2 separate regions of the Homo sapiens genome follow, and region 2 is linked to region 1. The links come from fine-mapping of genetic effects on gene expression. A gene starts in region 1. The other region holds a variant in brackets. All regions are shown on one strand. Distances are between the middles of the regions.

Region 1 (4,260 bases):
GCCAGTCCTAATAGTGTCTGAGTCAGGGCCAAAGGGAACTTGGGCTCCTGGGTTGGAACCTGTGGAGGCTGGCACCTGGGTGAAGCGCAGGCCTTTCTGAGCCTGAGTCCGTAGCAGTTAGCAGATGATAGGCGGTGAAATCTTATTTCACAGGGCATTAAAACAGGAACCAAATGTCAGGGATGGGCAGAAGTCAGGGTCCAAAGAAAGGGCAAAGAAAAGTGTCAGTGGCTCACGCATGTAATCCCAGCACTTTGGGAGGCCGATGTGGGCAGATCACGAGGTCAGGAGTTCGCAATCATCCTGGCCAACATAGTGAAACCCTGTCTCTACTAAAAATACAAAAAATTAGCCGGGCGTGGTGGCAGGCACCTGTAATCCCAGGTACTCGAGAGGCTGAGACAGGAGAATCACCTGAACCCGGGAGGTGGAGGTTGCAGTGAGCTGAGATTGTGCCACTGCACTCCAGCCTGGGTGACAGTGCGAGACTCTGTCTCAAAAAAAAAAAAAGAAAAAAGAAAAGTGTCTGCTGGGCTCGGTGGCTCACACTTGTAATTCCAGCACTTCGGGAGGCCAAGGCAGGTATATCATTTGAGGTCAGGAGTTTAAGACTAGCCTGGTCAACATGATGAAACCCTGTCTCTACTAAAAATACAAAAATTAGCCAGGTGGTAGTGGCGCACGCCTATAATTCCAGCTACTCAGGAGGCTGAGGCAGGAGAATCACTATAGCCTGGGAGGCAGAGGTTGCTGTGAGGGGAGATCACACCACTGCACTCCTGTCTCGCCGACAGAATGGGCAGAGTGAGATTCTGCCTCAAAAAAATTTTAAAAAAAGAAAAGAAAAACGAAAAGTTTCAATGGCTCTATGTCATCTTGTCCCCTTCCTCCTCACCTTCTTCAGAGAAGTACGATTTAAGTAGCAAATTTTGGGCAGGGGGTGACAGGGCAAGGATGTTGAGAGCAGCAGCATCTGTCATGGCCCCTCCAAATCCCTTCACTTTCTGGAACTTCTGTTCTGGCTGCAGGGTCAGTAGCAGGCCTGAGGACATCCACAGGGAATAAGGGTATCAGTACCCAGCGGGAAACTCCATGGTGATCACTGACACCATTTACCTCTAGGAGGACCCAGCCTGGCCCAGGGGGTGAGGGGTGTAATGGTTACCTGTGCCCGTGTGATTAGCCTGGATGGGCCCCATACTCAGCTCCATCCGTCGCCCACTGCGTGTACTCTCATAGCGGCTGAAGGTACCAAGGGCAGGAAAGGTCGGGGGGTCAAAGGAGTCACAGTATGTGGCATTGCAGACACACACCACCGAGCTGTAGCCGAAGCTTTTAGGGATGCAGGGGCGGGCACCTGGGAGGGAGGGAGTACAAGCAGAGTGAGGTCTGATGAAGACATGGAGAATGGACACATCTGCTAGGAGAGACTGAACACGGTTTCAAAATTCCTCACCCCTTGGCCGGGCGCAGGGGCTCACACCTGTAATCCTAGCACTTTAGGAGGCCGAGGTGGGCGGATCACCTGAGGTGAGGAGTTTGAGACCTGCCTTGCCAGCATGGTGAAACCCCGTCTCTACTAAAAATACAAAAATTAGCTGGGCGTAGTGGTGGCCGCCTGTAATCCCAGCTACCTGGGAAGCTGAAGCAAGAGAATCGCTTGAATCTGGGAGGCAGAGGTTGGAATGAGCCAAAATTGCACCACTGCACTCCAGCCCAGGCAACAGAGTAAGACTCTGTTTCAAAAGAAAAAAAACAAAATCCTCACCCCAAAGTTGGTCTCAGTCACTCAAAAGGATTTATTGAGCACCTACTAAAAGTCTACCACCAGCTTACTGGAAGGCTACCAAAGGACTATGAGGCAGAAGGGAGGCTCTGTGCTACCTCCCCACTGCCTTGACTCACTCACCTGATGCCCACGACACTGCCTGAAGTAGAAGCAATCCTGTGAGGCTGCCAGCCATGATGCTTACCCTACTCAAAGGCTTGGGACATTCCTGAGGACAGAATGAGGAATGACTGAAAAGCAAGCCCCTCTCCACCCCTCAACTACTCTCCTGGGCAGGGCTTAGCTGCCTTTGGGTGCCCATGGCCCGGTCTCCCACATTCATTAGGACAAGGCCCACAGAAACCTGGGTGCAGCTCTCCCTGCAACCCTTCTGATGACAACTCTCTGCCCACCCCAAATCAGGATGCTCCCCACCACTCTTCCCACCCATTTCAACTTCGACCCCTCCCTCCATCTGTGCCTTGCTCAAAGAGCCATGATGGCCCTGGATTCAAAGAGAGTCTGTCATTCATTAAATTCCAGTGCCAGGATTCCAGAAGCACTGTGACAATGCTGATTGGGAGCTCTCTCTCTTACCTCTCTGGAAGGACTTGAAAACTCCATCCCCTCAGGGTCATTAGATGAAGAGAAGACCACAGGGGTTCCAGAGTCTCTGAAGGATAGAGGATCCACTAAACAAAAACAAGGATGCAGGTACCTGCCTTAGCTATAGGCACTAGGTTAGCCCTGCAAGTAATTCCGGCTTCCCGATGTGGATGGGTCATGTGATGACTAGGAGCGTCACATGACACAGGAAGTGAGGCAATCACAGCCATATTTCTAAAGGGCAATTGGCTTCCTCTCATCTGTTACAGATTATATGCCCTATAAAACTCTGGAGGGCATGTATGGGTGACAACTTTAGGAAGAGCCTAGAACACAGATTTGCATGGAGAATGGGGTAGAGGCTCCTAAATCCCAGAGGATGGGAACCACAGCAGGCACACTTCTTTTTTGATAGAAATGTCAAAAAGGTACAAATAAAGCTGATATAATTTAAAAAAAAAAACTTCACTGTGCAAAATACTGACACTACCAAGATGTTTAAGACAGTCTTTGCCCTATAGAGGTGTGTGAGGCATGGAAGTCAGACACACAGATATTTACAGATAAAGACAGAAACGGTAACAGGTGTGCATGGAGAGCTCTCTGAGATGAGGAGGGACCATTCGTGGGTGGGGAATTATCCAGGATGGCTTCACAGAGGAAAAAGTGAGGGGGGTTATTAGCCAGTGAAGTGCAGGGCACAAGAGGGTGGGACACTGGCAGTGGGATGACAGGACTGGAGGGAGGGAGTGGTCAGTGCGGCTCCTCTGCAGCGTCCCTTGTTTCATCATCAGATGCAGATGGTAATAACTGTTCTTCCTTCCTCACAAGACAGGGAGGTTTGTAAAGTCGTTCAAAAACCAAAGTGTTGTACAAAGCCATATCCTCAGTGGACACAAGGAGGAAGCTGTCCATGGTGTGGCCTCATGAACCACATCAAATGAGATTTAGCGGGAGTGGCACACACAGTCATGACCTGACTAATCCCAGCTCTCAGCCCATTTCCTTGCCTGGAAAATGGAGGCAATGCCACAACCTCAAAGGGTGGTTACTGCAGTCAGTGAGGTAAGTGCAGTGCCTGACCACTTGGTAGGCACCTGGGAACTACTTGTCTCTTGTTTGTATTTTTTGTTGTTGTTGTTTTTTGAGACAGAGTCTCACTCTGTTGCCCAGGCTGGAGTGCAGTGGCGTGATCTTGGCTCACTGCAACCTCCACCTCCTGGGTTCGAGTGATTCTCCTGCCTCAGCCTCCCAAGTAGCTGGGATTACAGGTGCCCTCCAACATGCTCAGCTAATTTTTTTATTTTTAGTAGAGATGGGGTTTCACTATGTTGGCCAGGCTGGTCTGAAACTCTGGACCTCAGGTGATCTGCTGCCTTGGTATCCGAAAGTGCTGGGATTACAGGCATGAGCCACTGCGCTGGACCCCAGCCATCCTTTTTGTTCTTTAAATGATCTCAGTGAAGTCTTTCTAGATACACTCCAAGCAAAATTGATCATTTCTTCTTCTAGGTTCCTCCAGTAATTTTTTTTTTTTTGGTTTTGAGACAGAGTCTTGCCCTGTTGCCCAGGCTGGAGTGCAGTGTGATCTCGGCTCAAGCAATTGCCCTGCCTCAGCCTCCTGAGTAGCTGGGATTACAGGAGCCCACCACCATGCCCAGCTAATTTTTGTATTTTTAGTAGAGATGGGGTTTCACCATGTTGGCCAGGCTGGTCTCGAACCCCTGACCTCAGGTGATCCACCAGCCTCAGCCTCCCAAGGTGTTGGGATTATAGCAATGAGCCACCACACCCGGTCCCTCCAGTAATTAAGTACAGTCTCAGTGAGACAGCAAGTTTGGAATCCTGGCTACACCATTTACTGGCTGTTTGACTTTCAATAAATC
Region 2 (4,468 bases), 99 kb before region 1:
AGTCATGAAAAGTGGCCACACGATAGCCCACAGTGCCCAGGGCATAGCAGCCGGCGGACACCAGCAAGTAGGCGGGCAGTGGCCACAGGACTTCCTGGCAGGACAAGGGCAGCTCCAGGCCCAAGGCTCCCGTGGTCAGGGCCACCCAGGTGGAGCCCAGGATCGCTAGTCCCCAAAGCCACTGCGCTAATTTCGTCATGGTCACTGCGAGAGAAGGAAGCAATGCTCCCCTGAGGAGCAGAAAGGAAAAGCGGACCAAACTCAACCGAAGCCCGCCCACGGAGAGCATTAAAACCAGCCCTGGCCAGAGGGGAATCGCCGATCCCAGAGGTCCGAACTTGAGTGCCCACAAAAGGTGGAAGGGCCCCTTCCACCTTGCTACCCCCTCTATATTTGAGACCCACTCCCCATCTCTCGCCCTCCCCATTCAGCCTTCAACCTACACTTACCTCTACCCCACGTCTCCCCTTCCCCGCGCGGCCCGGATGTTGGCGTCCGGAAGTCCTCCCTGGTTCACGTTCCGCTTCCGCGCGGCCTTCTGGGAGTTGTAGTTCACATGGCGGCGCCTGGTGTACTCCTGGCCAGCGCCTCAATCTAGGCGGGGGTACAGTGGGCTGTGCTCCGCAAACGGGGAGCAGGCCGGGTCTGGAGAGGCCTCGGCGCTGCTTTCCCACCTTGGGCTACGCTCCAGGCTGGCGTGGGGCTTGAGGACATCCTTAAATGTTGCAACAAGATGGGAATATAATACCATTCCCCTTAAACTCAATTCTCCAGCGCTGAAATCCATTCCTTCATTCACTAGTTCATTCATTCGAAGATTTCTTTCTTTCCATTCTTGACAGGGTCTCTCTATAGTGCCTAGGCGGGACAGAACTCCTTTTTTTTTTTTTTTTTTTTTTTTTTTTTTTTGAGACAAAGTCTCGCTCTGTTGCCCATGCTGGAGTACAGTGGCTCGATCTCAGCTCACTGCAACCTCTGTCTCCCGAGCAGCTGGGATTACAGGCGCGCGCCACCACGCCGGGCTAATTTTTTTATTTTTAGCAGAGAACGGGGATTTCACTATGTTGGCCAGGCTGGTCTCAAACTCCTGACCTCAAGTGACTGGCCCACCTCAGCCTTCCAAAGTGCTAGGATTACAGGCATGAGCCACAGCGCCCGGCCAGAACATTTCTTGATTACCATGATAGACTTTGGAGATACAGAGATGTCAAGAGACTCGACCCCTTTCAGGTGGAGGGGGAAAGCAGGAGTCAGTGAAGCAGTTGCATTGACAACTAACCATGAAGGCTTGAGATTATTGTTAGAACAGAGGTAGTCATATTTTTACAAGGACAACAACCAATATAACTTGGAGCCAGAGGAAGAAGGGCTCCAGGAGTCTGGGTTTCAAAAAAAAAGAAAAGAAAAGAAAGACCAGAAGAATTACCTGAAGTGGTGAAGGCATTGAAAGAAAGAGTATAATTCTTTAGAACAGTTTTGGGGATGAATTTATTATGTATAGAGAGAAAGAGAGAGAGAGAACAAAGTAAGAGAAAAGGTTAGGCAATTATCAACTTCAGAGGAAACAAAGAGTTATATAAGAAAGGAAAGACAATTGATAAGCCTGTCTTATAAAGACCACATCTGTAGTTTGACAGTTAGGTTTATTAACTTGCCACAACAGAGAGATCACACACTAGAAGAACTGTGGGGCAACTCATTAAAAAGGAAGAAATATGGTCATTCAGATGATATGGTTTGGCTGTGTCCCCACCCAAATTTCAAGTTGATGTGTATCTCCCAGAATTCCCACGTGCGAGGGACCTAAGGGGAGGTAATTGAATCACGGGGGCCAGACTTTCCCGTGCTATTTTCATGATAGTGAATAAGTCTCACAAGATCTGATGAGTTCATCAGGGGTTTCTGCTTTTGCTTCTTCCTCATTTTTCTCTTGCCACCGCCATGTAAGAAGTGCCTTTGTCTCCCGCCATGATTCTGAGGCCTCCCCAGCAATGTGGAACTGTAAGTCCAATTAAACCTCTTTTTGTTTGCAGTTTCGGGTATGTCTTTATCAGTAATGTGAAAATGAACTAATACAACAGGATATGGGAAAGGCTTGACTTTAAAATTTATATTTTAAAATTTATTTACTTATTTATTTAGAGTTGAAGTCTCGGTATGTTGCCCAGGCGAAGCTCAAACTTCTGGGCTCAAGTGATCCTCCTGCCTCAGCCTCCCAAGTGGCTGATACTATAGGCTAGCTAAAATTTAAATGAA[A/G]CAGTGTTTTGATCGGTTCGAGGTAAGCATAACTTTAAGTGAAGGGATCAAGAAGTCCAAGCTGAGGGACCACTTGGAAATTACAAAGTCAAGATAAATATAGAATATAGTGTCCAAAAACCCACTATCTAGGCTGGGCACAGTGGCTCGTGCCTGTAATCCCAACACTTTGGGAGGCCAAAGTAATCCACGTGGCTCAGAACTTCTGGCAAGAGTAGGATGTTCCATTCGCACTGACTGATTTCAAATAGCAAAGTTTGTGACTATGATTTTAGAAAATGAAGTTTCTCAGCCGTATGTCCTGGATGTTAATTAACAAAAGCAGTTTTTACAGATTCACAGTCTTAGCACAAACACAAATGGCTCAGCTGTGAAGAAAATTTTCACAGCCGTAACGATGTAAACACTAAGTATTGATTTAACTAAAAATTGGAGCTGGGGACAGTGGAGCTGTGATCCCAGAACTTTGGGAGGCCTAGGTGGGAGTGTTGCTTGAAGAAATGTACAGATAAGTACCAGAAGAAGCAGCCTAGAAACTGGAGCGTAGTTGTATATGTAGGTTGTATATGTAAGGGTTAAAGAAGAGGAGCAGGGGATGGTTATTTTTCATTAAAAGCCTTGTAGAGTTACAGCTCTTTTTTTTTCTATTCTTTTTCTTTTTTTCAGACAAGGTCTTGCTCTGTTGCCCAGGGTGGAGAGCAGCGGTGCAAACATGGCTTACTGCAGCCTCGACCTCCTGGACTCAAGCTATCCTCCCACCTCAGACTCTGGAGTAGCAGGGACTACAGAAGTGGGCCACCACCACCACGCCCATCTAGTGTGTGTGTGTGTGTGTGTGTGTGTGTGTGTGTGTGTGTGTGTGTAGACGGGGTCTCCCTATGTTGCCCAGGCTGGTCTCAAAATCCTGGGCTCAAGCAATTCATCTCAGCCCCCACAAAGTGCTGCTATTGCAGTCGTAAGCCACGGCGCCCACCGAAGTTACAGCTTTCAGAATTTGTTGAGCAGGTTTCCCGGTTTTCACTTGAAAATGCCCCGCCACCCCGAAAAATATTTGTTGAACTAGTTGGCTTTTAAAACTATACAAATTCCTTTGTTAAAGTAAAAATTAAAACAAATAAAAACTTTTCTTTTTTTTTTTGAGACAGAGTCTCGTTCTGTGGCCCAGGCTAGAGTACAGTGGCATGATCTCAGCTCACTGCAACCTCTGCCTCCCATGTTCAAGCGATTAGCCTGCCTCAACATCCCAAGTAGCTGGGACTACAGGCACGCACCACCACACCCAGCAAATCTTTGTATTTTTATTAAAGACAGGGTTTCACCATGTTGGTCAGGCTGGTCTCGAACTCCTGAGCTTGTGATCCTCCCACCTCGGACTCCCAAAGTGCTGGGATTACAGGCGTGAGCCACCGCGCTCAGCCCAAACTTTTTTTTTTTTTTTTTTTGAGCCGGAGTTTTGCTCTTGTCGCCGAGGTTGGGGTGAAATGACACGGTCTTGGCTCACTGCAACCTCCGCCTCCCGGGTTCAAGCAATTCTCCTGCCTCAGCCTCCCGAGTAGCTGGGATTACAGGCACCTGCCACCATGCCTGGCTAATTTTTGTATTTTTAGTAGAGTTGGGGTTTCACCTTGTTGGCCGGGCTGGTCTCAAACTCCAGACCTCAGGTGATTCGCCCCCTCGGCCTCCCAAAGTGCTGGGATTACAGGCGTGAGCCACCGCTCCTAGCGAAAAACATTTTTTAGGCTGGGTGCGGTGGCTCACGCCTGTAATCCCAGCACTTTGGGAGGTGGAGACGGGTGGATCACGAGGTCAGGAGATCGAGATCATCCTGGCTAACACGGTGAAACCCCGTCTCCACTAAAAATACAAAAAAAAAAAAAAAATTAGCCGGGCGTGGTGGCGGGTGCCTGTAGTCCCAGCTACTTGGGAGGCTGAGGCAGGAGAATGGCATGAACCCGGGAGGCGGAGGTTGCAGTGAGCCGAGACTGTGCCACTGCACTCCAGCCTGGGTGACAGAGCGAGACTCTGTCTCAAAAAAAAAAAAATGTTTTTAAACCTGCTATACGACCTTCAAAGCCCTAGCCACATTTCCATTTCCACACCAAATCTTTCTGGTTTCTCAATCAAGGACTCACTGGTCACAATGACTTTCAAATATTGGTATACTTACAGGGGCTGGACACGAGCATTGCAGATGCAGATCCAGAAAGTCCAT

Evidence for each region. PIP is the estimated chance that this variant, and not a neighbour inherited with it, causes the effect. A credible set is the group of variants that fine-mapping cannot tell apart.
Region 2: its variant is the best candidate, but not a certain one, in a credible set for the expression of GBA1 in testis (GTEx, PIP 0.54).

The regions. Positions count from the first base shown.
Region 1 is chr1:155,238,721-155,242,980 of GRCh38, forward strand. It overlaps GBA1 (glucosylceramidase beta 1), which reads right to left and starts at 2,529. Exons shown (of 11, transcript NM_000157.4): 1 at 2,366-2,529; 2 at 1,910-1,997; 3 at 1,166-1,357; 4 at 896-1,042. The coding sequence starts at 2,392.
Region 2 is chr1:155,140,042-155,144,509 of GRCh38, forward strand. DPM3 (dolichyl-phosphate mannosyltransferase subunit 3, regulatory) reads right to left here and starts at 490. Exons shown (of 2, transcript NM_153741.2): 1 at 450-490; 2 at 1-204. The coding sequence starts at 199. RefSeq lists enhancers at 430-559, 730-789. The variant A/G (reference allele first, on the strand shown) is at 2,257.